Linked DNA regions of Homo sapiens. The protein of the gene in region 7 purifies or fractionates together with the protein of the main gene of each other region. This does not show direct contact. Each region holds a gene or a part of one and is shown on either strand. Other genes may lie near its edges. The genes, in order: PTPN21, SMAD1, NDFIP1, ARRDC4, PTCH1, SARAF and WWP1.

Region 1 (4,109 bases), on a different chromosome or scaffold from region 7:
AGCTCATGATCAAATATTAATTATAAAATTAAAAATTAATCCACTTAGCTTATTGAGTTAGGTACCAATCACAGTCTCCAATTACAGCAGCAATCTTTTAGGATTTTTTTCCTCTCTCACCAAGTTGCCTTTTCCCTCTGTTCTTGCACCATTATCATGGGGCTTCATGGCCTGTTACAGGCTGAGAGAGCTGGAATAACACGGATTTTGTTTACAGGGCAGAACCATTATTTTCCAGTTGGGGCTACTCATTATATTGATATCATCCAAGGAAGTGTAGTATATCCAACGAAACTTAGTGTTCTTTTTTTTTTTGGAGACGGAGTCTCACTCTGCCTCCAGGCTGGAGTGCAGTGGCACGATCTCAGCTCACTGTAATCTCCACCTCCCAGGTTCAAGCCTTTCTCCTGCCTCAGCCTCCCGAGTAGCTGGGATTACAGGCATGTGCCACCACGCCCAGCTAATTTTTGTATTTTTAGTAGAGACGGGGTTTCACCATATTGGCCAGGATGGTCTCAATCTCCTGACCTCGGCCTCCCAAAGTGCTAGGATTACAGGCGTGATCCCCCGCACCTGGTCAACTTAGTGTTCTTATGCTTACTATTCTCAGAGAGGAAAATCATGCTCTAATAATAATTTTAGGAAACACTTGATTTCAGGAGACAAGATTTTGTTGATGCTTTCTCTTCTGTCCTATCCTCCTGGTGTCATGATGGAGATTTTAGCCCTGTTTTATTTTCCTTGTTTAAAAACGTAGCCGTTCTGAGAGGTAGCGTGATCTAACCCGGGTCATCTAAGTCTGCACTAGAATGCAGAGTAGCATATGAGGAGGGGGCTTAACACACAAAGGGGGCTGCTGCAGAAACCATTTAATTTTTCAGAATGACTTAAAGAATTTATATATTTTAAAAATTATAAAAAGCTGTCCGGGCATGGTGGCACACGCCTGTAATCTCAAGCACTTTGGGAGGCCAACACTGCTTAAGTTCAGTTGTTTGAGACCAGCCTGGGCAACATAGTGAGACCCCATCTCTACAAAACACACAAAGATTAGTTGGGCATGGTGGCATGTGCTGGTAGTCCCAGGTACTCGGGAGGTTCAGGTGGGATTGCTTGAGACTGGAGGTTGAGGCTGCAGTGAGCTATGATGGTGCCCCTGCATTCCATCCAGCCTGGGTGACAGAGTGAGACCCTCAAAAAAAAAATTTATAAAAGCTTACTATAGTCAATTGATTGCATTTAAAGCTTTTGTTTTTTTTTTTTTTTTTTTTTTTTGGACTTCAGCTGATTTGTTACGTCTGTCTTGTTTTAAAAGGAATGCAGTCTGCCTGGAGCCTCACCTTTCATTACAACAGAACTTTGTAACCAATAGTGTTTCAAAACCTTCTATCTGGAAGACTTTATCAGGGCTTTGGCCTTGAAAGGAATGTCTTCCTACTAATGTTTGTTAAACAAGTGGTGTGTGAAGGAGTGTAATCTTTCTGGGTTTATTGGCAAAGGAGAACACTCCCTCTGTGTGTTCCTGGTCTTCAGTGCATTGAAACTTCTTTTCACAGGGGTTGTATTTGTGTATATTTCATATATACATATAAATCCTTTTACAGGGAATGAAAAAGACTCGAGTAGATGCAAAAAAAATTGGTCCTCTTAAACTGGCTGCCCTAAATGGACTCTCCCTATCTCGAGTGCCTCTGCCTGATGAAGGAAAGGAAGTGGCTACCAGAGCAACGAATGATGAAAGGGTATGTATGGGACACACAGGGCTTTGTGCCTTCTCTGGAACAACCGGTAAATACTACGCAAATGCCTTCATGAGATTTTGGTGAATTTTCTAACACAATTTAATAATAAATGAGTGTTAAGGAATTTTGTAATATGGGCCTCAAAATTGGGGCAAATGTATAGCTAATGTCTTAATAGATAATTTCAGGTTCGAATGCTGATTTTTTGTTTGTTTGTTTCTCAGTGTTCTTTTTTACCTTCTCCTGGCCTTTTGGAGCAGTCTTGATTTTGATGGCCTTAAAGTGAGAAGAAATCTACAAAAATACAGGAGCATACAGGGGAAAAGCAGCAGACATTGACTTTTATTATACTGAAAGTTTATCTCGAGAGTAGTTTCTCAATTTTTCAAAACTTCCTTTGTGCCTGAGGTGTATTTTCTATGAGGTTTTATTACATCAAAATCAGATAGGCATACATTTGCTTTACAACGGGATCCTGGAGGTAGTTTCGAATATTTCCTACTGCTTTAGTCTTTTATATATCGTATGACATAAAATGGAAACATTTGTTCATAGCTGTTGGAACTCATTATCCGTCCCCTAGATTTACTTACTGTTCCCCAGGAGAATTCCATCTATTAGGGGTCACAAAATTGACCACAGATCTAGAGAAAATGAATTCAACAAATTTCTTTAGGCCAATTTTCAACTTTAAACAAAAGTTTGCATTATATTTCTCACCAAAATGATTGTCTTTTGTTCTTTTAACTCTTGTTGTTGTGGCTTTTTAAAATTTTAACTTCATTTTCACCTAGAATTTTGTTTCTGTTTTGGTTTTGGTTTGGTTTTTTTGAGATAGGTTCTCATGGTTCACTGCAGCCTCAACCTCCTGGGCTCAAGCAATCCTCCTGCCTCATCCTCCCAAGTAGATGGGACCACAGGCATGCACCACCACACCTGGCTCGTTTTTTAATTTTTTGCAGAGACGGGGTCTCACTGTGTTTCTCAGGCTGGTCCTGAACTCCTAGGCTCAAGTGATCCTCCCTCCTTGGCCTCCCAAAGTGCAGGGATTACAGGCATGAGACACCGTGCCCAACCTAGAATTTTCAATATTATACAGTGCTAGATTTGAAGCAGAAAACAAGATTTCAAATATACAGTCAAAAGGTAGCCACGACGTGTGGCTGTATTCATGTTATTACACATATTCTGTTTTATAGTGTAAAATTCTGGAACAACGATTAGAACAAGGAATGGTATTCACAGAATATGAAAGAATTCTTAAGAAACGGCTAGTTGATGGGGAGTGCTCAACAGCACGACTCCCTGAAAATGCAGAAAGAAATCGATTCCAAGATGTTCTTCCTTATGATGATGTGAGAGTGGAGTTGGTCCCAACTAAAGAAAACAACACTGGTTACATCAACGCATCACATATTAAGGTGAGAGGAACGCCTCAAGTAATCAACAGCACATGCAGTTTCAGTTAAGTTACAAGAATGGTAAGAATTGTATTCATGTCTGTTTAGAATTCAGATATTTTAAAATTTATTTTTATTGTATTGTTTTAGATAAACACCCTAGTTTTAAACATTTGTGACAAACTGTACTGCAAGCTGGGAAATCCACATACCAGTGCTAGATAAAAAGCGTCTATCAGACAGAGCCAAAGTCATGTCTACTCTCCATGTGCGAAACCACTCTGCCCCCAACACTGTTACCAGGACTCAGGGCGCACTTATTTGCCCGGCTTTTTTTTTTTTCTTTTGCCTTTTTTGAGATAGAGTCTTGCTCTGTCGCCCAGACAGGTGGAGTGCAGTGGTATGATCATGGCTCCCTACAGCCTTGACCTTGTGTTGCCTGGCTTTAGAACTTTGTCCTTCTAAATCTGAAGACCTCTTTTTAGCTCATAAATTCTGGGAGCCACTGAATTGCTAGTTTTTCCTCATCACATACTGACATGCATTTTTATGTAACAAAAGTGTCTGGGCTTTTTGATGGTGTTCACAAAAGCTTTCAACTTACCAAGGTGCCATCTGTTCTCTTTACATACTCTTTATAATAATTTTTAAGTATCATTTTTTTTCTTTGAAGAAGTGCTTTTTTCCTGGAACCAGTATAATGCCATTAAACTGGGGTAATGTTTATGGTGAGAGATAGGGGGTCCAGTTTTACTTTTCTGCTTATGGATATCCAGTCTTCCCAGTCCCATGTATTTAAGAGGCTGTCCTTCCCTAGTGTATGTTCTTGGCACCTTATCTGGGGTAATATCACTCCTATGAAAATGGACAAAATGATGATTCACAACACATGATGGAATAAAGCCAGATGTTCCCTCTTCCTCATTGTACCCTTTGTTCATGCTGGCCACATTCAATTCTTTATTTT
Region 2 (4,109 bases), on a different chromosome or scaffold from region 7:
GTACTGGAAACCATCTGCTTGTTCAACTTAGCAAAGACAAAAAACAATTATCCTCTTTTTCTAGACATAACTGTTGGTGTAATGGTTATCAAAATAAATGATTAATAAGGACATTATATATTTTTAAGTTACAGGTTAATGAGCAAGCATCTCCAAAAAAAAAAAAAAAAAGAGTGCCAAATTTCTTGCCAGTAGACTTTAAGAAAGATACCCTAAACAAAAATATACTTAACATCTATTAATGTTTTCGGAAGGGAAAATGACTGGGCAAGTGTGTTTATTGGGCTGCTTGAAATGTTTTTAAGTAAATTTGAATTCAACATCAGTGCTAGGCCTTCAAAAATTGAAAAGTGGTCCACATTTATATTGCTTTCTTTTATTTATGTATTTATTACCTTCTTTTATTTAAATCTTGTTTATTTCACATTGTTTTGTCCGGTTTTCAGTCCAAAGCTGTTTGGGATGAGGGTTGGGAGACAGACTAGTTTAAAAATCAAAGTAACTGGTGACTTCCTGTCTACCTCTCTCCCTTCCTCCTCACCACTAACCTGTATGATGGGCAGGTTAGTGGTGAGGAGATACATTTCAGAAGACTTTTGAGCAGTGGCAGCCCAGAGTGGCCCCAAGATTGAATTAAAGGTTATTGCTTGAATTTACACTTTGTCCCTAAATGTCAGGGATTAAGGCAAAGGCCAAGTAATGGAAATATGGAAAACAGTTGCAAGGGATGGGAGGAGGTGCCTGTAGGAATAGTAGAATAGTATCAAGAATTATCGGGTTCCTCTTGGTTGTGCTGATGCCATAGGTTGCCAATGAAATTTTCACCAGCTTCTTGGCAGAAATTCATTGACTTGGGCTCAGAGGAGGCTCTTTGTCTTTGTTCCTGGCTTGAGATAAAGCCGAGTCAGCCTTACAGCTGCAGAGAAGAGGCTGAATTAAAAGAAGCTGAAAAGGGGCAAAAGAGGCATCCAGAGAAGGTCCCAGTAGTCCCATCTCAGTACTATGAGTTGTTGCTTGTTAGCAGCTGGATGTGAAGTTACCAGGTTGTGATTCAGCTGGAGAGTGAGTCTTGGAAATCACTGGGGCTCTCTGAAGGAACAACATGAGTTGTTTGTATTTGACAGTTGCTCTGAGTGGTCTCGATTACTTATCCAAACATTCACGATTCCCTCAGGTAAAATTTTGTCTCCAAGGCTCTGACACATATGCTAGATGGGCTCATGATAGCTAGTGAGGAGCTTGCTTTTGGATGGAAAAGGATTATTTGTGAGAAACCTATACCCTTTGTTTTATATTAAGAAAATGCAAGACTTGTGTTAGTGTTCTTTGTTTAAAAAATCATGTTTGCCTCTTATTTGCCAGAAGAAACATATATGTAAATTCTGAAATAGGAGATAGCTGTGATAAACTGATTCATTTTCTGTTATTCTGTTACTAGAGATTTTAAAGCTAGTGATTATTTAAATGAGTAGGGAGAGTGTGGTCCTAACAGATTCCCTAAAGTCATGGAAAATTAACAGTTCAAATCAGTAGGCTATAATGAAACTTGGTGAATTTTCTAAAAGCCCATAGATTTAATGCAAAAGACCCTGAAGCTCCTTTTCTTAAGAAGTCCAGTGAAGCTTTCAGAGGTTTTCCATCTATCAGTGAAACTGAAATGCAGAGGTCCTCTCAAAGCAGATTATATTAAAGTGTGCTTAAAATACTCTTCTGATTGCTTTTAAACAGCATGATCCTGCATAGGCAAACAGCTTCTGGAACTGGCATATAGTATAATTCTTTTCCTCCCACTGAATTTTCACAAAAATGTATATGATTGTGGCATGGTTAATACTTTTCAGAAATTGTACATCAAGGCAGTGCCTGTAGCCTTTAGTCTTTTAATGGGGAGATTGAAATGACAACTTGATCTCTTGAGAATTTCAGTACAGAAGAGGATACGTGTTTTGAGCATGTATGTTTACTAAGGGTTAAGAAATAACTTCTTTAAAAACTTTGTAGCTGATACGCCCCCACCTGCTTACCTGCCTCCTGAAGACCCCATGACCCAGGATGGCTCTCAGCCGATGGACACAAACATGATGGCGCCTCCCCTGCCCTCAGAAATCAACAGAGGAGGTAAAACTAATTGCTGCCTGTTCCCTTTTTTAGAGTCTAAAGTTTGTCCAGATGTTACTTTCTCTCACAAATTTTTATTAGTCTTTAAAAAGAGAGCTACTTGAGAAAAATAGAGTCCAATGTTAAGAGAAGCTCACTACAATTGCTGGATAACAAGTAAGTCTTTAATTTAAAGAACAAATACACTGACTTAACTAATGAAGATCTGAGAATAATTTTGCAGTTATCTGTTTAGATCTTTAATACTTAATAATTTTTAACTGATGATGAAAATTTTTTTTTTGTTTTTTTTTGAGACGGAGTTTTGCTCTGGTCACCCAGGCTGGAGCACGATCTTGGTTCACTGCAACCTCCACCTCCCAGGTTCAAGTGATTCTCCTGCCTCAGCCTCCTGAGTAGCTGGGATTACAGGTGCACACCATCACGCCCGACTAATTTTTGTATTTTTAGTAGAGACAGGGTTTCACCATGTTGGCCAGGCTGGTCACGAATTCCTGACCTCAGGTGATCCGCCCACCTTGGCCTCCCAAAGTGCTGGGATTACAGGCGTGAGCCACTGTACCCAGCCAAAAAGAGTATTTTTAAATGAACAAAATGGTATTTAGAAACAATAAGTATAACAGTACTGAAGTAGAGTTTTCACTGGTGATTTCCAAAGTTGGAAGTTGGTATAACTGGGCTGTCCAAAGGCTTTCTTCTGTAATTAGGATAGATACACATAAACCCCGTCTGTTTTTCAGCTCTTATGTATGTGCAACTACAACTGGAACAAACTAATAGAATTTCTTGCTATTTGTTTCTAACTTTGTTACTAAAAGGAATTGAGGCACAAGTTTTTCCCCTTCTCAGCCTGAAGAACTTGCAAGCAGAAATGAAAAATTTCTTTCCCCCTTTAGTAAAGGGTGGGTCTTTGATTCCAGCGCTGTATATATCCTTAGCAGTGACCGAGTGGAGGATGCCATCATTCTTCCAGCTCTACATAGGCAAGTAGGATAGACTTAAGTGAGCAGAGAACTCAGGTAAATAAGTTCGGTAGACTCTCTGAGAAATCTGTTAGAATCCACAGCCACCCTGGCAAATAAAACTGCTCCTAAATAACCTCTCATGAAAGAAAGTGCTTTGCTGCTGCACTCAACACATGGCATGGGTCATGCAATTTATATAATGTTTATGCAAATTGAAGTTAAAGTACAGTTTGGTTACTAGGTATGTCTTGTTTCATTTTAGTGCTTTTTTATTAAAATAGGAGATACTTATTAAAATAGGAGTTGCTTATATTTTTAAGTACTTAAAATTGATTTTGTCTCTATGACACATTATACAGTGGTAACTGCATGTCATTATACATTTATCCAAACCCATAGGATGTACACCATAAGTGAACCCTGACGCAAACCGTAGACTTTGGTTGTAGGTCTGTAGGATGAATGTCGGTTCATCAGTTAAAACAAATGTGCCACTCTGGTGGGGGATATTAATAATGAGGGAGGCTAGGAAGGTGTGGGGGTGGGGGGCATATGGAAAATCACTCTGTCTTATACTCAGTTTTGCTGTGAACCTAAAACTGCTTTAAACATCGATTTAAAAACTGGTGATGAAGGCTGGGCGCGGTGGCTCACGCCTGTAATCCCTAGCACTTTGGGAGGCCGAGGCAGGTGGATCACCTGAGGTCAGGAGTTCAAGACCAGCCTGCCTAACATGGTGAAACCCTGTCTCTACTGCAGATGCAAAAATTAGCTGGGTGTGGTGGCGGGCCCCTGTTGTCCGAGCTACTTGGGAGGCTGAGGCAGGAGAATCACTTGAACCCAGGAGGCAGAGGTTGCAGTGAACTGAGATCACACCATTGCACTCCAGCCTGGGCAACAAGAGCAAAACTCAGTCTCAAAAAAAAAAAAGAAAAAAAAAATTGGTGATAAACTCAAAGGACCTTTCTTGGATGTGCAGTGTCATAAATTGGAATGTACACCACTTTAATCATTATGATTTTTTAA
Region 3 (4,109 bases), on a different chromosome or scaffold from region 7:
CCCAGTTATGATGAAGCGGAGAGGACCAAGGCTGAAGCTACTATCCCTTTGGTTCCTGGGAGAGTGAGTATAATTTGCCATGTTACTTGATGGCTGCTCTGTGGGAATTAAGTTATTTTCATTATCCAATTTTGATTCGTTACTTATGATTGTATTGATTAGTGAAAGTAGAGCTAATTTTAAAAATCAGGTACATTTGCTTTTGGGATAATAAACTCATCTCTTCTTAAAAATGATGAGGTAAATTACTAGTCAGACCTGCTCATTTTTCCTTCATCTCTCCTATTACCACTACTTTTTCAAGTCTCCTGGGATGGCTGAAGTATCTTGAAGCAGAAGCACACTAATGTTTCCTTGATTCTGCACACTTAATATTTTGCTGTTGGGTGGATAGCTGCTAGGGAGGTCTAGGAAGAGAATAAATATATGCAAATTTGTAGAATTAAACTCATAAGAGGGATCTTCACATTGATTTAGATGAACTCCGTTCTTCCAGCAGTCCAGATCATGTCATTTGTGGGGACATAGTGAGTTCAGATTCCATCTAGCCTGATGTTGATTCATGGAGGTGGAGATTGGGATGCCATATAAACCAGTGGAGATTATTGGGCACTCTTGGTTCTTGATGTCAGATATGTGAGTGCTGCATTTGTCATTTTGTAAATATTCATCCAGATTGAGGCTGATGAAGGTAGGGCATTGTGGGAGAATGGAAGCAGGATAAGTCCCCAGAAATGCGGGGACCATCAGGCCTCTAGGCTCTATTCTAGCAAGTAACTGGAGTGAGTGATGAGCAAGTACAGAAGCCTAGTCTGGGCAGTGTGATGGCATAGGCCCAGATGTTCCCCTCTTGGCTTTAAGATAGTAGACAGTTTGCAGACCACACCTACTGTGAGGAGCGAAGCTCCTAAAATCATTGCTTGGTAGAAATAGTTTATGAGCCCAATCTAGGATGATCCTAAATGGCGATGATGTGCATTCAGTTCTTACAGGTACCAGGGAGAAACTAAAAACCCTAGTGTCTAAGGGCAAGACCATCATAATGTAACTGCCGTATATTGGAAGCAAACCACATGCTTGGTACTGTGCTTGATGCTTTTATATATTTTGTATATTGTTTCCAATCTTCATAGTAACCTTGAAAGGTAGAGATTATATTATCTCCATTTTACAGATGTGAAAATTTAGGTCCAGAGAGAAAAAGTAATTTTCCCAAAGTCATATGACTGATAAGTAGCAGAAGTGAAAGTCAAACCCAGATATTCTAGAATCCAAAGTCCTTGTTTGTTTCACTGTACTCTGCAGATCTGTTGCAATATATGGTAAATAGATCAGTATGGAAATTAGCTCTGATTAATCACATAACTCTTCAGAATACTTTCATTTGATACAAGTACATATTTAGGAACTTCTTAAAGGGCTCTAGTATTCAGCAGACATGTATAAAGCACTTTTTAAATATAAGATGCAGTATATTTTACAGTGGATAGGTAAAAAGCTTTGTATAAGGCAGTGTTCCTCATTGTTATTCAAAAGCCTAAAATCCAACTAGGGTAAAGGGCCCACAAATACTGATAACTAAGACACATAAGAGCAGTGGGCATCAAGAACTGAAACTTTTTACTGGGTGATCATAGGGGAAAATGAGATTTGATGTGGGCCCGGAGTTTTGATGGGTAAGAACATTCCAGAGGGAAAAAGGCACAGAAAGCAGGTGTGAATTCAGCCAGGTGAAGGCAGTTCTGTGGATGTAGTAATTGGCTTTGTATGAGCAAGAGTTTGTGAAGGGAGATAGAAAGTCCTGACTACAACTGTTGTTTATAGAATCTTTGGAATGTTAGATGGGCGTATTTAAACTTCATATGTAGCTTTTAGAGAATCCTTCAGAGTTTTTGAGCAGGGGTATGAGAGGACTTGTGTGGTGTTTTGGAAACATTAACTTGGCAGCAATTTCTAGGATGCATCATGGTAGAAGAGATACCAAGAGGACAGGAAGAACAGTTAGAAGGTGTTCGTAATATTATTAGATGTTACTTCCATATATTTTTTGGAGTATATCTTTGAATAGTTATGCAAAAAACAATTAGCTTTTAATTTTGGCAAAACCTTATTCTGCTGATACGAAGTAAGAATACTAGGTATTTAATGTTTTAAAAAATTAATTATAAAAATTCGTTTTTATAGAAATTTCAAACAATAGAGGAAGTATGTTAAGTTAGAAAAGGAAGCTGCCATTGCCACCGACTTCCCTTTCTCTAGTTCCCACTCCCCAGGGGAACCACTGTTAACAATTTGGGTCTTCCAGACCCTTTTCTGTGTACAACAAGTTTTGATATTCCCTAAAATATTTTTCATTTAAGGAGCCCTCATTGAACTGTGTACAAATCTATCACTTTTAAGTATATATTCAATTATTTTTAAATATCTCAACACACACCTATATCAGTTAAAAAGATAGCCCACATGTGTTGGTATTGTTCATGATCATGTTATTTCTAGTTTTGCAATATTACGTTATCAAGTTAGGATGGAAAAGATCTTATCTGCTGATAAGGTTAGAAGTGAGATTTAGATCTGTATACCAATACAAATACATGCTTATGGAGTTGAGCAGTGGGCAGTTCTGTGGACTATTCATGTATGATCGTACTATTCTTTTTTCCCCTATATCAGCCTCGTAAAGCACTTGAGCTGGTTGATTTTATCTTTTTTTTTTTGAGACGGAGTCTCACTCTGTTGCCCAGGCTGGAGTGCAGTGGTGGGATCTTGGCTCACTGCAAGCTCTGCCTCCCGGGTTCATGCCATTCTCCTGCCTTAGCCTCCCGAGTAGCTGGGACTACAGGTGCCCGCCACCACTCCCGGCTAATTTTTTTGTATTTTTAGTAGAGACGGGTTTCACCATGTTAGCCAGGATGGTCTCGATCTCCTGACCTCGTGATCTGCCTGCCTTGGCCTCCCAAAGTGCTGGGATTACAGGCATGAGCCACTGCACCTGGCTGATTTTATCTCTAATTACTAATATTTTAGGTCCTAAACAGGTCCTCGATTACTGATATTCTAGAATTTAAACCAAATGTGTAAGTAAATTTTGTCTTTTGTCTTTTCTTGAGGTATATTTTTTTAAAGGAAGAGTAAATAGTTCTTTGTGAACTATTCTTGAAGTGTATTGTTTTTGAAGTGTATTAAATTTTTGAAGTGTATTGTTAAAGAACTTGGGTTATAAGATGAAAATTTCATTTAGAACACTGGGGATAGAAGAAAGATTTGCTTCTTTTCTAATTATATATTAATAATGCAAAATGGAATTTTAAACACACATTGAGCCTTTAATGCTCATAATTTTGAACTGAACCAAAGCAATAACTTTTTTCCTTGCTACTCAAATTTAACCCTTCATTTTTCTTTATGTCTTCCCTTTGCCTAGAAATAATTCTTTTTCTTTTCATTTAGGATGAGGATTTTGTGGGTCGGGATGATTTTGATGATGCTGACCAGCTGAGGATAGGAAATGATGGGATTTTCATGTTAACTTTTTTCAGTAAGTATGTATGCATATCAGAACCACCCCCTACAAACTAGAGTGCTTTGGATTATGGGTGAATCTGACTGAATTAAAATAACTAGTTGAGCTAATATATTAATACATTATGTTTATTTGGTGCCTTTTACTGGAATATTCAAAGCTTAATATACCTTTGTTTTAATATCCCTTCTCTTTGCCTTCTATTTTCATGAATATCTGTGGAAAATATAATTAAAGCAGTTATGAGGATGCTGCATTTTTACATGAGCTAAGCCTCATCTTCCAGGTCTACGGGGCCCTTTTGCGTTGCTTCTACTCATACTTAATCTGTAGAATAGGAATTAAATGCCTTTGATGAATTTTGCTCTGAAAGCTTCTTTTTTCTGACAGATCAAAGTCAGCCTGATTTTCTCCCTTCATGTTACTTGCCATTTATCTTTTTGTGTGCCTCACATAGAAGTGAGCAACCATTTCCTTTATTTGTTGTATTAGAAAGATAAGAAAATGCAATGCTTTTAGAGGTGATGTTATATAAGTTGTCAAAATTCAGAGAACAGGAGGATGAGTGACTTGAATCAGATTATTT
Region 4 (4,109 bases), on a different chromosome or scaffold from region 7:
ACAAGACAGAAATAATGAGCGGTTGGTGCAGAAGCAGAAATGGGCACATGGTTCAGCTTGTGAACCTTTTACATTAAAAACAAAACTTGAGAAAGAGGAAAAGAAAACAAAGATTGAATTCCAAATATTATAACCCATTTTTATCAGTTTTTCCATTTCTTTTTCCTGTTTATGTTTTGAGATAGTTGAAAGTCTCATTTTAAATGATATAGATCCGATGTCGATTTGTTGCTTAATGAAAGGGGAACTTCATGTCTCTCATTCTCTTCAGTATCCTGGGCAACTGTGTTCCCCACAAATGCCTGCCATGCTCTTCCTCATGCTATTCCCTTATCTAAATTTCCCTTCCTATCTGTCTCCATTCCAGCCCTCAGGTCCTGAAGATGTCGGGCCCACCCATGTTCCTATGTGGGTGCTCTAGGTTCTAGCACTCCATGGTCATTGCTTGTGTACAAGCATGTAATCTCCTTTCCTCCCCCGGTCTCTTTGAGGATTATCTGCGGTGCCTGAAATCTAAGCACTACACATTTTAAACTCAAATGAAATACACATTTCAAAACATTTGTAAATACTTCGTCATGTTCTGTAATCTAGTAATTTCAAATTAGAACTTTAGCCCAGCTCTTTTAGGAGCACTGGGATTGCCTTGAGCCTTTCACTCCACAGCTGTCAGGTCGAGATGCTTCCCTGGTCCCTGCTCTGCTGCTACCTTCCTGAGCACACGTCAGCCACTGGGACCCGCCCTGCCACTGAATTTAACATGATCTCATGCCCCTGTGACTTGTTCTTCACTTTGCCTCCAGTCACCCAACTGTGGAGTATTCAAATTGACTTAAGTGGCAGGTGTGTCACTTTTTTATCCCCCTTGATGTTAACACATTAAAAATTGGGGATAGATTCAGAAGACCTAATAGGTCAGTAATGTGTTCCTATTTTCTAAAAGTACGAAGTTGAAATGTCAGCTGACTTGGTTAAGGTCATAAAATAAAACTCTATTTTTTTATTTAAGGGATAAAAAATTCCCATTTCACTACTGATTTCTTTAAATTTTTTTTTTTAGTGAATGGATAAAGTAGAAATCTTCATTTTAGTGTCAGATGACCAGGCAAATCTCAGAGTTCTGTCTCTGTGTTCCGATTTCTTCATCTTATTTATCCTATCCACAATAAGGGAATTCAATATTAAATCTGAGCATGAAATGAAAGGACAGTGTATAAGTCTCTCAAGAGAGCCTCCTGACCAACCGTGAAAGCCATGAAGTCTACTTTGGATCTGAATTAAACAGATTGTCTTGGTGCCTTCATCAGAGGTTTCAGTGGTGCCTCTGGCCTTACAAAGTCCCTCCACACCCTGCATTTTGGCCTTCTCACAATCTAGTGATAAGCTTCTGCCTGAAATAAAATGGAGCTGGTAACCCAAAGCTGAGAAAAGGGCCCTGGCCATGCTTGGTAAAGCCCTTTCTGTATTCCAAGTTAGCCACCAAGAAACTCTGTGTTAGTCAGGAGAGCTCAAGGATACATACATGACTTGCTTAATAGCTTGTCTTGTGGGTTTGGCTGTTTTGTGTTATACCCAGTATTAATGATATTCATAAAGTTTTCACTCCCTTTTCCATTTCTGCTCAAAGAATACTCAGTGTGATGTTTCTGGTATACCCAAAATAAATCTGTCTTTTGCTAAATTAGTTTTTGGTCCAATTTAATATTGGTATTTCCCGTTAGTATAATAGAATGGGGGTAAGCAGTTGTGATTTTTACATACACACACACACACACACACATATACATATCCATATACACATATATATGTATGTTGGAGTTCTGAACCTTAGCACTTTAGTAATTGGTCTATTTGAGAATGGAATATATGTGTGTATGTATGTGTGAGTGTTATGGTACTTGGTAAAAACTGGCCAAGTGCAGTAGCTCACCCCTATAAGCTTAGTGCTTTGGGAGTCCAAGGTGGGAGAATCGTTTGAGGCCAGGAGTTCGAGACCAGCTTGGGCAATATAGCAAGACCCTCGTCTCTGGAAAGAATTATTAAAAATTAGTCAAGAACCATGGCACATGCATATAGTCCCAGCTCCTTGGGAGTCTGAGGCAGGAAGATTGCTTGAGCCCAGGAGTTCAAGGCCGTAGCACTCTGGCCTGGGCAATAGAGCGAGACCCTGTCTCTAAAACACATAGACACACGCACACACACCCCCCTTCAAACTTAATTCTCTACATTTGTTTAATGAACTTTTGGAGTATGCTGCATTTTGTAGCGAGAAAAACTTCCTTCAAAAAATTATTTACATTGTGAAAACTCTTGATCTAATACTAACTATCCTTCATTAAAATAAAATACAATCTCTTATAGGTGAAGGCATCATTTTATTACAGCCTGGAAAACATGAATTTCCATTTCGCTTTCAACTTCCATCTGAGTAAGTGAAACACTACAATTTTGTGGTTATCCTTCTCTGCAGTATGTCCATTCAAGTTTATCACTGCTAGGTCTCTTCTGATTCTCAAGTATGCATGTTTACACTGAATAGTCCCTAAATAGACTTACTCTTTTTTTATTTCCAACCTAAAACATTTTAAACCATGCTTTTTTTGGCTTTGTTTAACTGAAAAGTAAACTCATAATTAATGTCTTTGGTTGGTTTCAGACCTTTGGTCACCTCGTTTACTGGGAAATATGGAAGCATTCAGTACTGTGTGCGGGCAGTGTTGGAACGACCCAAGGTACCTGATCAGAGTGTAAAGCGGGAACTCCAGGTTGTTAGTCATGTCGATGTCAACACACCAGCATTATTAGTAAGTTCTTCCTTTTTCTCTTCCTCCTCCTTTTCCTCCTTCCCTCCCTTCCTCCTTCCTTTCAACAGTGGGATCTATATTTAGCCAGTTTACTGGTAGTCTGTCCTGTCACTTTCTGATGGCTTGGAAAACACAATCTTGTAACCCAAAGGCATTCACTATAAATATATGATTCTAGGTTGGACAAATTACAAATTGTGTGTGTTAATACTATTGATTATGTCCCTGCTGTTCAGGGCTTCTTTTGCCAAAAAGTTACACAGGCTTGAAATGCATTAATAAGGCTTAATAACAATAATGCACACACAGAGAGTAGTTACTTTTACCAGAGTGGCCACATTTACAGGACTGGGGTATTCTAAACTCCTCAATAATAGCAGGTTGAGGAACAGTAATTATGGAAGAGTATTAATCATGCTCAGCCTGTTATTGAAGCTCAGGCCATTATGCTATGTATCCTTCCATTTTGCATGTCATTTTCTAACATTAAGTAAGTGCATGCAGCTGCCGCCGAGATCCTTTCACTTATCATTTCCTTATGACAGATTTGGCCACATTAAAGCATTGAACTTCTAATAATCACCAGAAATACTGTAGACTGATAAGAAAGATCAGGCTATAAGTAACAACAGAATAGGCAAGATGGGAGCTAATGAGCTAGATTCTTTTATCTAAACCCATATTATCAAAATAATATAAAATTATACCTTGTACTTTCATGATAGCTACTAGGACCTAATGGTTCTTCATTTAAATATGAATGAATGATTTTTTTTACTTCATAGAAAATACTGAGATAATTTAAACTTTCCATCACGATACTGATGTGACAAAGATGTATTTTTCATGTTGGAGGTTTTTCTAGCCTGTGTTTTTAAAGACAAGGAAAAAGCTAGCAGTTAGAAGTTGTTGTTTAAGTCTTATTTTCGCATGAGAAAGAAATAGAATTTAATGTTCACCTTTAGATTATGAAAAGATAGCAGATATGCTGTGGTTCCATGGCCTCTTGTGGTCAGAATCATAAAACAGCCGGCACCCAGCTGGCCTGGCTTATAGCTGGGACTTTAACAGCCGCTTGAAAACCATTTTTGAAAAATTGGTGATGCCAAGTAGCTTGTATTTTTAAAAACTACTTAGAATTGGGAGGCTGAATATTTTTAAAGTTTTTATGACCATTGTGGGAATTGATTTAAAGGGATTTGTCTTTGCCAAAAACAGACACTGTTGATCCCTTACGATTCTTTATATAAATAAAAAAAAAATATTGCAAGTAACTGGGTTTTACAGAAAGCTTTGGTGTGTGTA
Region 5 (4,109 bases), on a different chromosome or scaffold from region 7:
GTTCCTGTGTTCTAAAAAGGTTGCAATTGGAGCTATTTGGTAAAACTGGAACTCACAGAATTCTAGGCAGAAAGTTGTGATTAATGAAAGGCCAGGGAAAGCCTTACCTGATATGCTAGAGACTTAATTAGAGATTCTGCCGTAAGATGCAGAAGCATTTCACAGTGGATTAGCAGCCTGCAGAAGTGGGCTGCTTTTCCTCCTGGGCTAAATTGTTTAAATTCTACACCCTTCACTTCATTTGTTTGCTTCTGCTGGGTTTTCACGAGCGGGGCCCCTCGGCATTGTGTTTGTGCTTTCAGTCTGCCCAGCCATTCAGGTCGCATTCCATATTTTTGTGTTTGTGTAACACATTCATAAATAACATTACATGCCATCAGAGTTCAGCAAATTAACAAACTAATTTTTTTTTTCTTCCCTTCATGAACTAACACTTTGGGTTGTGGAATGTAGTCCTCAAAGTCATAAGGTAAAGAAACAAAAAGCAAAAACTCACCTTGTGTTGAATGTGAACTGCGGTTGGATAACAGCCTTTTCAGTGGGGTGGGTTTTGTTCATTTCTGGCGTTGCCATGCTGCTGTGTCGGGCACACGGAGGGTGGCGCGATCCACCCTGTCACAGCGCGTGTTCCCGTTTCCTCTTGATCTCCCAGGTATTTCTTTGCTGTGCTGGCGATCCTCACCATCCTCGGCGTTCTCAATGGGCTGGTTTTGCTTCCCGTGCTTTTGTCTTTCTTTGGACCATATCCTGAGGTCAGTAGTGACACGGGGATGTCCCACGTGTAGGCCGGCTGAATGCTGTGTTTCCTGTGCCGCTCTTCACTTCGATACTTAGGTGCCTCCCCACTTGCTGGTGGTTCTTCAGTAAACATCTCAGAGTCATGTCTGTTTTCCTCTTCGGTGTACTGGCTTTGAGGGCTAGAGGGCGGGTTCGGTTTGGTTCCTCTAAATCAACTGATTGGCAGCCTGGGTCTTACAGATCTTTATACAGTAAATGAAGACTTTCCCCTTGAGATGCATAATTGGACTTCACAAGAGTAAAAAGTACACATCCTGCCTTTCCAGTGTGGAGCAGAGGACAGTTCTTCTGCTCCAGCTGCGGGACCTGAAGGTCCTCCAGGTGGTAGAGAAGGGGAGGTTAATACGGCACAGTGCGCAGGGCCCCAGGGCAGGGAACAGAGGCCCCTGAAAAATACCGTGCTTTGAGCTTTGAGTGTGGCCAGCAGGTAAATGGACAAGAACACTTTTAACATGGAATCCCCTTAAATAGGTGTCTCCAGCCAACGGCTTGAACCGCCTGCCCACACCCTCCCCTGAGCCACCCCCCAGCGTGGTCCGCTTCGCCATGCCGCCCGGCCACACGCACAGCGGGTCTGATTCCTCCGACTCGGAGTATAGTTCCCAGACGACAGTGTCAGGCCTCAGCGAGGAGCTTCGGCACTACGAGGCCCAGCAGGGCGCGGGAGGCCCTGCCCACCAAGTGATCGTGGAAGCCACAGAAAACCCCGTCTTCGCCCACTCCACTGTAAGTGACTCTGCAGAACCAGGGGGAGGGGTCTTCCCACCGTGGTAGTGGGCCTGGAGGTCCAGCGGGGGCTCCTGTCTGCTGAGCAGCACATCACACAGGCAGATGGGATGCAGAGATAAGGTACAGACTAGGTCAAATCATAGGAAATAACCAGTATTTAACTCTTTCTCAACTATACAAATGCCATCTTCCTGTGGTTTGATCTCATAAAGGATAAAAAGGGCAGGGGCCAGTAATGTCACTGCACAAAGCAGTAGCATCTATCTTGTTCAGGGTGAGGACAGTTTGGGCTTCAAAGGCCAGAGATAAAGCATTCCTGCCTTTTTTTTTTTTTTCCTCTTAAGGTGCATGTCATTTGAGAGTGATATTTTCTAAAACTAGTAGTATTTTTATTGCCAACAGAGGTCAGGTTTTTTCCTTCTCTCATTTCTGTTAGGTTTCAATGCCCTTGATACAACATTCATTATTATTGTCTAAATACTTTACCATAGCTTTTGGGGCTCCAAGCTCATGTTCCAGGTGGCAGGAAAGAGCAGAGAGGCCAAGAACCACCCCTGAGTTCTTAGCCTTCAGTGATTCAGGAGGTCACCAGGAGCCTGGGAGCCCCTCCTCGGAGGCTCCAAGGACCTGGGTCCTTTCCTCCACCCTGTGCTCCCTGGGATGGGCTCAGCCCTGAAAACTCAAGGAAGGTTCTGGGCTGATGTTGCTCCACTGAGGGCCCCCTGCTGTCCCTCCAGGAAATGGGTATTCCAGTCCCAGGCCAGAGCAGCCCTTCCGTGAAAGAGAGAAAGGCCAACCAAATAACCTGAATTGTCCTCCTCCTACCCCCCGCGACGACGCCCGCTGAGCTGCAGTGTGAATCTGGTTTTGTTCAGCAGGAGCCTAAAAATAGGTACAAGCTGAACGACTTTGAAGTTGGTCACGGTCCTTTTGATTGATGTGGCCACTGTGTTGCTCTGTGCTTTGTATAGAGACGCAGAGACCAGATTCTTAACAATCAGATGGAACAGGCTGCCCGCCACAGCCCTCCGCAGTGACGAAAATGCCCTCTCTGCTTTCCAGGATGGGAGCCACCGGCCACACGTGGCTGTGGAGCACTTGAAATGTGGCCGGGGCTACCGAGGAGCTGGATTTTGGATTTTAGTTCATTAAAACTTAAGCAACCACATGTCTGGAGCGGCTACTGTGTTTGACAGAGTAGGCAGAGACAGTCCTGCCAGCGTCCTGCACTCAGGCCAGCCAGGGCCGCACACTTAGCAACTTCGGGAGAGGGGCAGCTCAGAGCCTGCAGAACCTAACAGGGTCGGGGGCAGGTTGTGGGGGGCAGCAGCTTGGATGCTCTGACCACAGCCCACATTTATGGGCAGCAGCAGTACGTGTCCAGCCAGCCGTGTCAGAGAAAGCCTGGAAACAGGATTTTCAAACAACACGCTCCTCCGCCAGGTCCTGGAGGTTATTAGAAGGACAGGCTTTTCTTTTGTGGGTGGAAGGCCCCCATTGGCTCCCCAGGGTTGACTGAGTCTTTGGTGAAACCCAAGGAGGGAAGTGTGGGAGCTGCGGGGACCATGCCCAGCCTGGGATACCACCCTTCTAACCCACCCTCACCCTCTGCAGGTGGTCCATCCCGAATCCAGGCATCACCCACCCTCGAACCCGAGACAGCAGCCCCACCTGGACTCAGGGTCCCTGCCTCCCGGACGGCAAGGCCAGCAGCCCCGCAGGGACCCCCCCAGAGAAGGCTTGTGGCCACCCCCCTACAGACCGCGCAGAGACGCTTTTGAAATTTCTACTGAAGGGCATTCTGGCCCTAGCAATAGGGCCCGCTGGGGCCCTCGCGGGGCCCGTTCTCACAACCCTCGGAACCCAGCGTCCACTGCCATGGGCAGCTCCGTGCCCGGCTACTGCCAGCCCATCACCACTGTGACGGCTTCTGCCTCCGTGACTGTCGCCGTGCACCCGCCGCCTGTCCCTGGGCCTGGGCGGAACCCCCGAGGGGGACTCTGCCCAGGCTACCCTGAGACTGACCACGGCCTGTTTGAGGACCCCCACGTGCCTTTCCACGTCCGGTGTGAGAGGAGGGATTCGAAGGTGGAAGTCATTGAGCTGCAGGACGTGGAATGCGAGGAGAGGCCCCGGGGAAGCAGCTCCAACTGAGGTGAGTGCCACTGACAAGGGCAGCCAAGGGACCTAGAGCCAGGCAAAGAGGAGGACAAGGTTCTCCTGGGGTTCTCGGCATCCCCGAGGGGCTGTGGCGCTCGGGCACATCCCACGCTGGACCCCAGTGACCTTTTATCCCCAGAGCAAGGCTGATGTGTCCAAGCTTTGTCATCCTTGGGGAACCAGTCCAGCTCCACACTGCTCTCTTCCCCCACTGCTAACCTGCGGAGGGTCGGTGCAGCGCCACAAGGACACAAACAGCACCACCTTTTACCAATATTTGCCAGTCTTTATGGAGGTGCATGCCACAGCGAATTGGTCACATGGGAACGCATCCGTGTAACCAGCCCCCAGATGAAGGGAGAGGTCACAAGCAGCCCCCAGGGACACCTCAGGCCCACACCCCACTCTCGTGATTTCTAATA
Region 6 (4,109 bases), about 56 Mb from region 7:
ATATGCTTTAGAGATAGATTTTATTAAATGAATTCAGTTTAAATCACTAGTTACATATTTCTACTTTGTATTCTGACTGCTTTCAAAATTGATTTAAGACGACTGGTCACAAGGCAAGAAACTTATGTTGACGATTTCCCCTCTCCATCAGAATGATATTCTTGTTTGATACAACCTTTATGCGTGGTCTTTGCAATTCAGAGAGGAAGTTGATGTGTACTGGGTGATACTTACTTCACAATATTTTCCCCCAGTACTGCTAAGTTGAATCATAGAATTCTCTGGGTTATAGCAGAAGTCTCACTCCACTTTACTTATGACTTTTAGAGTCTTGATGGGAAAAAAAGGCAGTAATGGTGATGTCATTCATTAAGCATGTATTAATTGCAATATACAAAAATGAATAAGGTAGAATGAAGAAACTGTCTTACTAGTAGAAGAGGTAAGACAGGCACTCAGATTACATGTAGGTCCCAACACAACATTATAAAGTCACGTCTGGTTGGAGCCATTGGGACTTAAAGGATGAGACATTTGTGCTGTGTTAGGAAGGAATGATAACATTTTTAGAGAGGAAAGGCTAGAGAAGGGAATAGCATGAGCAAAGGAGTGTTGAGCATATCATACATTGGCTTATGTTTAGTAGCAGGAGAGAGGCCATTTAGTAGCAGGACAGAAACTCCTTCTATTCCAAGAGTTGAAATTTAAATACAGTACTTAGAAGCTACTTGTAAGTACGCATGATTAAGGAAGTGGTAGTTAACATGAAATACCAATACAAGTTTAGCTTGTTTTATTTACCTAAGTCAACAAACCTATGAATCTTCCTCCAAATAAAATTATTTTAAAAACAGTGTAGTAACAGCAACAAAAGAAAAACTGCATCTTATCCAAATGAAAAACTTTTGACTATCAAAGGACATCATCAAGAAAGTGAAAAGACAACCTACAGAATGGGAGGAAGCTTAGCAAATCATAATTGGTGAGGGACTTGTATTTAGAATATAAAATAACTCTTACAACTCAGTAAGAAAACAACCAAGGTAAAAATGGCAGAGCATCTGAATAGACATTTCTACAAGGAAGATATATAAGTAATAAATAAGCACATGAAAAGTGTTCCTTATTATTAGCCATCAGAGAAATGCAAATCAAAGCCACAGTAAGATACCACTTCACACTCAGTAGGAAGGCTATAATAAAAAAGATAACAAGGCTGGTGAGGATGTCGAGAAATTGGAACCCTCATACACTGCTGTTGGGAATGTGAAATGGTCCAGCTGCTTTGGAAAATTGGCAGTTCCTCAAAAGTTTAAATGTAGAGTTACCATGTATGCCTCAGTCATTCCACTCCAAGGTATATACACCCAAGAGAATTGAAAACACATGTCCACACAAAAACTTGCATACAAATATACATAGCAGCATTATTCATAATAGCCAAAAAGTAGAAACAATTCAAATGTCCATTACTAATGAACGATAAATAAAAGTGGTATATCCATGCAAAGAAATATTATTTAGCCATAAAAAAGTGAAATAGTAATACATGCTACAACGTGGATGAATCTTGAAAATGTTATGCTAAGTGAAAGAAGCCAGTCACAAAAGACCACATATTGTATTATTACATTCCTGTGAACTGTCCATTTAGGGAAATCCATATAGACAGAAAGTTGGTTGGGAGGTGTGCGGCGGGAGAATGGAGAGTGACTGCTAATGGGCACAATATTTCTTTGGGGTGACGAAAATATTCTAAAATTGATTGTGGTGACAGTAGCACAACTGTGAATATACTAAAACCATTGAAATGGGTGAATTGTATGGTATGTGTGAATTATATTTCAATAAGGCTATTATAAATGAAGTAAAATAGTGTGAACTTTGAAAGAGGAAAATAATTTGTACAAAAATTTGCAGAAGGGCAACAGAACCAATTAAATCTACTTTAGCTTGTGTCTTTTTTCATTTTTTTTGAGACGGAGTCTCCCTCTGTCACCCAGTCTGGAGTACAGTGCAGTGACATGATCTTGGCTCACTGCAACCTCTGCCTCTGGGTTCAAGTCGTTCTCCTGCCTCAGCCTCTATTTTTGAAGTAGCTGGGATTACAGGCGCCTGCCACCATGCCCACCTCATTTTTGTATTTTTCGTAGAGATGGGGTTTTGCCATTTTGGCCAGGCTGTTCTTGAACTCCTGACCTCAGGTGATCCGCCCACCTTGGCCTCCCAAAGTGCTGGGATTACAAGCATGAACCACCGCGCCTGGCCTTTAGCTTGTATCTTAAGAGTTAAAGAAGCATATTGCTTTTTCCACCACAAAATATAGAATCTAGACCAAACTTGGGCATATATTTTTTTATAAGGTGGACATTTTTGGGGCTAGCCTGGGTTCTTTTTGCATTTTTCTAAATATCTTTAAAAAATACAAGAGAATTACATAGAATTGGACCTTGGAAAGTTAGTCCATGGTTTTATAAAATTTGTGTAGAAAAGTTTTTTTCTCTGAAGGTTATGTAATATCTCTGTTGCTTTGTGTAGCTACCAGACATTCATATATGATGCTGTTTTGAGCCTTAACATCTTTTAAGAAATCTGGATTTTTAAAGAAAGCATCTTGAACAACAGTGGCAAAAAGTTGACATTTTGGCAGTTTGCTTAAATTTTATAAATTGTAGAATACTTAATATGTTCAGATGGATATATAACATGTATATGTAAAGAATAGTAATAAAACGAATACTCATATACGCAATATCCAGCATAAGAAGTAGAACACAGATACCACCATTATCTTTGAAGCCCCTCATTTTCCTTCCCTTAGACATGAATACTTACCATTGTGAATTTTGCGGATCATTCCCTTGCTTCATTTTGCAATTTTATGACGGATATATAGCCCAAGTAACATTTTTTTTTTTCTTGAGACGGAGTCTTGCTCTGTTGCTCAGGCTAGAGTGCAATCACGATCTCAGCTCACTGCAACCTCCACCTCCCAGGTTCAAGTGATTCTCCTGCCTCAGCCTCCTTAGTAGCTGGGATTATAGGCGCCTGCCACTGCGCCTGGCTAATTTTTGTATTTTTAATAAAGATGGGGTTTCACCATCTTGGCCAGGCGGGTCTTGAACTCCTGACCGCGTGATCCACCCGCCTTGGCCTCCGAAAGTGCTGAGATTACAGGTGTGAGCCACTGCGCCCGGCCCCCAAGTAACATATATTAAATGAAAAAAATGTTTGTTTCTAATAGTCTGTTTCTATTTTTCTTCACAGTGGGAATGTAAGACGGACTTAGATATTGCATACAAATTTGGAAAAACTGTGGTGAGCTGTGAAGGCTATGAGTCCTCTGAAGACCAGTATGTACTAAGAGGTTCTTGTGGCTTGGAGTATAATTTAGATTATACAGAACTTGGCCTGCAGAAACTGAAGGAGTCTGGAAAGCAGCACGGCTTTGCCTCTTTCTCTGATTATTATTATAAGTGGTCCTCGGCGGATTCCTGTAACATGAGTGGATTGATTACCATTGTGGTACTCCTTGGGATCGCGTTTGTAGTCTATAAGCTGTTCCTGAGTGACGGGCAGTATTCTCCTCCACCGTACTCTGAGTATCCTCCATTTTCCCACCGTTACCAGAGATTCACCAACTCAGCAGGACCTCCTCCCCCAGGCTTTAAGTCTGAGTTCACAGGTATGTTTCCCTCGCAGTGGCCATAAATAGAGCGGGTGTGAGGTTAGTGCATCCTGTGCTTGGTTCTGAAATAGAAAATCGTTGCATTGGGAAACCAAAGGAGGTTTGTCTTCTCATTTTGTTTTTTACTTTCAACTTCTTTTACCTCTTCTGTTTGGCTCTCTCCCAAGGTATATTGTGGTTGCTATGTTAATGCCTGATTGGCCGGGCGCGGTGGCTCACGCCTGTAATCCCAGCACTTTGGGAGGCCGGGGTGGGCAGATCACTTGAGGTTGGGAGTTTGAGACCAGCCTGGCCAAGATGGTAAAACGCCGTTCTTACTAAAAATACAAAAATTAGCCGGGTGTTGTGGCGGGCACCTGTGATTCCAGCTGCTTGGGAGACTGAGGCATGAGAATCACTTGAACCCGGGAGGTGGAGGTTG
Region 7 (4,109 bases):
GCACGCGAATGGAAAGGAAGAAAGGAAGTCGAATAGCCAAAATTTGATGAGAGGGCAAATGAAAGTAAAAATAACTGATTCTGATCCAGGTTGGTTGGGAGAACAGTGGTACCATTTTGAGCAAGATCATGAAGCTTTACCCTCAGCATATGTGTGCTACTTTACAACTTTTTGGAGATTACTAATTCTTGGTAAAATGCTGGCCTGGAAAATTTCCATATGCGCCTATGCTTTGTGGATATAATTTTAGGGGAGTCCATGGAACACCTGAAAGTCATCCATGACACTCATCTCAGAATTTCTTGGAGCTTTTTTTATTTTCGAGGCAGGATTTCTTTCACTCCTGTCCCTGTGGCTGGAGTGCAGTGGCGCCTTCTGGGCTCATTGCAACCTCCGCCTCCCAGGCTCAAGAGATTCTCCTGCCTCAGTCTCCCGAATAGCTTGAACTACAGGCGCTTGCCACCACACCCGGCTAATTTTTGTATTTTTTTTTTAGAGATGGGGTCTCACTATTTTGCCCAGGCTCGTGTTGAACTCCTGAGCTCAAGTGATCAGCTTGCCTTGGCCTTCCTAAGTGCTGGGATTACAGCGTAAGCCACCCTGCCGGGCCTACTGGGAGCTTTTTAAAACAGTAGAACCTTCAGGTTCTTCTGTGTACTGATAAGAACTCTTACTGTAGAGATATGCTGTATATATACAGAAACACAATATTACATTTGTGTTGTGGTTTACAGTTTACAGAGAATTTTGACTAATGTTATTTGCTATTATATTACACAATAAACTATTCCTGGAGTTTAAATGATTTGCCTGAAGCATCATTCAGCTGGTGGGTAAAGTGGAATCAGGAGATTGTTGACAATGATGGTGTTCTTTCATGTATGAAGATAATGCAGTGGCTTTACCATCAATTAAATATAGTTACTGCCTTTAAATGACCTTGTCAGTAAGACTAGATGATCCCACAAGATTCCTTCTAGTTTTTAACATTTTGTGATTCTCGAGTCCTAGACTTTCATCAGAGTATCTACTCTCCTTGTTTAATATGTGCATGAGAGCTGGTGAGTCTGAGGGATGAATTGGGTAGAGAAGAGCAGTTAGCAATATCAGATCATTCATTTGGATTGTTACTTTCTTTGTATGTCTCACTTTGGGCTGGGGAGTAGGGAGGAGAGAGGTGATGTAAGTGAAATAAGAAACTTTAAGAACTTTATTGGGAGGCTGAGGCAGGAGGATGGTGTGAACCCGGGAGGCGGAGCTTGTAGTGAGCCGAGATTGCGCCACTACACTCCAGCCTGGGCAACAGAGCGAGACTCTGTCTCAAAAAAAAAGAACTTTATCTTCTCTGTTCATTTATACCTTCAGAATATTCTTTTCTTTCAGGAAGCCTTTATCAAATAAAAATGGAGACTTCACAATGTAAATGAAGATTCCTACTCAATTTTTTTTGGGTGGATTAAGTAGCTAGCTAGTACGGTTAAAGTGTAGTGCGATTGGTAAACAGTTGACTTTTCTGCACCTGTAAGATTATCTCCCTGGTAATAGGTAATCATAGCATGTTATTACATGTTAATAAACTTTGATTTCATAATTATTAGAAAGACTGTTGTTTTTTACTCTTTGTATAAAAATATGATACAATTATAATGAGCATTGGAAAATCCAATAAATTGCCCTTTATAGTGGTATCCAAGGAACTAGTTACTAATACTTAATGGAGGAAAAATGATAAAAACATACACAGATGAATTTTATTGTTTTTGCTGGCATTAAGAATTGTACTATACCTTATGTTAGTATAGCATTTCACATTTGTAAATAATAACTATATTTATCATTTGGTTCTCATGACAACTGATAAGTTGGTGTGTTAGGAAGTAATAACTGCTTTATATTTTATTTTATTTTATTTTATTTATTTATTTTTGAGACAGGGTCTTGCTCTGTTGCCCAGGCTGGAGTTCAGTGGCACAGTCATGGCTAAACTGAAGCCTAGACCTCAGCCTCCCAAGTACTTGGGACTACAGGTGTATGTCATGACACCCAGCTAAATTTTTAAAATTTTTTATAGAGATGGGGTCTTGCTGTGTTTCCTCAGGCTGGCCTCGAACTCCTGGACTCGTGGCCCTCCCACCATGGCCTTCCAAAGTGCTGGAATTACAGGCGTGAGCCATCGCTTCCAGCCAATCATTGCTTTTTGGATGAATATGCTGAGGCTAAAAAAAAAGTTTAAAAAGTTAAATTTCCAAAGTATGTGGCTAGTTAGTGGCCACAATTAGAACTACAACTAAAACCCTTATTTTTGTTCCTATGTCAGTATTCTTTTCCCACCAGACTTCTTACTCTTCATGTACAATGGAACATCATTAGTTAAGAGCTGTATGTGAAGGATTTGAATTTACCTGTTTGGAATGTGTTAAACTTTTGTACCGTGTAGAGGTAAACTTGTCAGTTTTTTCCTTTGTGTTAAAATGGTAATCTCACTGCAGTGGCTATTGGTAGGTGATATTTAAATTTGTAAGCATTGTACCACAGAATAGTTATTCTCCTGTCAAGGATAAAGCAAAAGTTGATTTCTTATCTGGAAAAGTACATTGGTGAAATGTAGATATTTATTTTTTTGAAAATTTTGAATTTAATTCTGTTGCTTTTACAGATGAAGTTTGTGTTTCCCTTTTATAAAAGCTTAGTCTTCAAAAATTTACATTTTTTGAGGATATAAATGAGGATCTAATTTCCAAAATATATATAGATTGGGTATCCCTAATTCAAAGTTTGAAATGCTCCAAAATGGGAAACTTTGAGCCACCTACATTACTCAACAGAAACATTCACTGGAGTATTTCAGATTTTGGATATTTGGATTAGGGATACTCAACCTGTATCATGATATTTTATTATTTTTGTATTAGATCATAAGCTCTACCATTGAAAAAAACCCAAAGATATTAAAAAGCCCTCCTTAGTGGATGCTTCAATTCATACATTTAAACAACTTTTTTAGGGAATGTATAATGTAAAACCATACGTCAGATGGTTTTTAAGTTATAAGGAAGACTAGCATGGTTTTTAAGTTATAAGGAAGAGTAGCATTTGTTGATTTAGTCTTGACATTTCTTTTTTCTTTTTTTTTTTGAGACGGAGTTTCCCTCTTGCTGCCCAGGCTGGAGTGCAATGGCGCAATCTTGGCTCACTGCAGCTTCCGCCTCCTGGGTTCAAGAGATTCTCCTGCCTCAGCCTCCCAAGTAGTTGGGATTGCAGGCATGCACCACCACACCTGGCTAATTTTGTATTTTTAGTAGAGACGGGGTTTCTCCATGTTGGTCAGGCTGGTCTTGAACTCCAGACCACAGGTGATCTGCCCGCCTCAGCCTCCCAAAGTATTGGGATTACAGGCATGAGCCACCACGCCTGGCCGTCTTGACATTTCTTAAATCTACAGTTCACTCACAGCACATACTGGCGTACCTACTATGTGCCAGACATATTTCTAGGTGCTGGGAGTACAGTGTTGAGATGACAGATATGAAGCCTTTCCTCTTGGAACCTGGAGTTTAGTGGAATCACTAACATTAACAAGGGCATAGAACTTTATCTTCTCAGGTTGTAATTTTGCGGAGTGTAATTAATTATACCTCTCCTTTTTCTGGGGTTTGAACAAATTATGCAGAACACACAAGGAACCAGGTGAGTGTTGTTTCAGTTATGTACTGCTGTGTAGCAAACAGCCCTAAACCAAGTGACTTAAAACAACCATTTTCTTTGTTACAGTTTTGCTTTCCTGGGTTGGGCTCAGTTGGGCAGGTTTTGCTGGTGATCACTCTAATGGCTGCTTTTCTCTCCAAGTAGCCTTTCCAGCAGAGTTGCTGGCCTTACCTGGTAGCTGATGGCTTAGGGCTCACAAGAGTACAAAACAGAAGCAACCAGATCTTTTTTTTTGAGAGGGAGTCTCACTCTGTCACCCAGGCTGGAGTGCAGTGGCTCAGTCTTGGCTCACTGCAACCTCCACCTCCCAGGTTCAAGCAATTCTCCTGCCTCAGCTTCCCGAGTAGCTGGGATTACAGGCGTGCACCACCATGCCCAGCTAATTTTTGTATTAGTAGAGATGG

What was found.
Region 1: the proteins of WWP1 (region 7) and PTPN21 purify together in Homo sapiens (affinity purification with mass spectrometry; 3 studies listed by BioGRID). This does not show direct contact.
Region 2: the proteins of WWP1 (region 7) and SMAD1 purify together in Homo sapiens (affinity purification with western blotting; 2 studies listed by BioGRID). This does not show direct contact.
Region 3: the proteins of WWP1 (region 7) and NDFIP1 purify together in Homo sapiens (affinity purification with mass spectrometry; 2 studies listed by BioGRID and IntAct, with this or other methods). This does not show direct contact.
Region 4: the proteins of WWP1 (region 7) and ARRDC4 purify together in Homo sapiens (affinity purification with mass spectrometry; 2 studies listed by BioGRID and IntAct, with this or other methods). This does not show direct contact.
Region 5: the proteins of WWP1 (region 7) and PTCH1 purify together in Homo sapiens (affinity purification with western blotting; 2 studies listed by BioGRID). This does not show direct contact.
Region 6: the proteins of WWP1 (region 7) and SARAF purify together in Homo sapiens (affinity purification with mass spectrometry; 3 studies listed by BioGRID and IntAct, with this or other methods). This does not show direct contact.

The regions. Positions count from the first base shown.
Region 1 is NC_000014.9:88,471,298-88,475,406, reverse strand, and holds part of PTPN21 (tyrosine-protein phosphatase non-receptor type 21), read left to right. Parts: intron 1-1,604; coding exon 1,605-1,742; intron 1,743-2,941; coding exon 2,942-3,163; intron 3,164-4,109.
Region 2 is NC_000004.12:145,540,581-145,544,689, forward strand, and holds part of SMAD1 (mothers against decapentaplegic homolog 1), read left to right. Parts: intron 1-2,001; coding exon 2,002-2,118; intron 2,119-4,109. UniProt on the Homo sapiens protein: Transcriptional modulator that plays a role in various cellular processes, including embryonic development, cell differentiation, and tissue homeostasis.
Region 3 is NC_000005.10:142,132,280-142,136,388, forward strand, and holds part of NDFIP1 (NEDD4 family-interacting protein 1), read left to right. Parts: coding exon 1-63; intron 64-3,450; coding exon 3,451-3,538; intron 3,539-4,109. UniProt on the Homo sapiens protein: Activates HECT domain-containing E3 ubiquitin-protein ligases, including NEDD4 and ITCH, and consequently modulates the stability of their targets. As a result, controls many cellular processes.
Region 4 is NC_000015.10:97,963,239-97,967,347, forward strand, and holds part of ARRDC4 (arrestin domain-containing protein 4), read left to right. Parts: intron 1-2,361; coding exon 2,362-2,428; intron 2,429-2,656; coding exon 2,657-2,804; intron 2,805-4,109. UniProt on the Homo sapiens protein: Functions as an adapter recruiting ubiquitin-protein ligases to their specific substrates. Plays a role in endocytosis of activated G protein-coupled receptors (GPCRs).
Region 5 is NC_000009.12:95,446,484-95,450,592, reverse strand, and holds part of PTCH1 (protein patched homolog 1), read left to right. Parts: intron 1-652; coding exon 653-752; intron 753-1,269; coding exon 1,270-1,524; intron 1,525-3,141; coding exon 3,142-3,681; 3' UTR 3,682-3,682; intron 3,683-4,109.
Region 6 is NC_000008.11:30,069,218-30,073,326, reverse strand, and holds part of SARAF (store-operated calcium entry-associated regulatory factor isoform 1 precursor), read left to right. Parts: intron 1-3,267; coding exon 3,268-3,685; intron 3,686-4,109. UniProt on the Homo sapiens protein: Negative regulator of store-operated Ca(2+) entry (SOCE) involved in protecting cells from Ca(2+) overfilling.
Region 7 is NC_000008.11:86,345,101-86,349,209, forward strand, and holds part of WWP1 (NEDD4-like E3 ubiquitin-protein ligase WWP1), read left to right. Parts: intron 1-4,109. UniProt on the Homo sapiens protein: E3 ubiquitin-protein ligase which accepts ubiquitin from an E2 ubiquitin-conjugating enzyme in the form of a thioester and then directly transfers the ubiquitin to targeted substrates.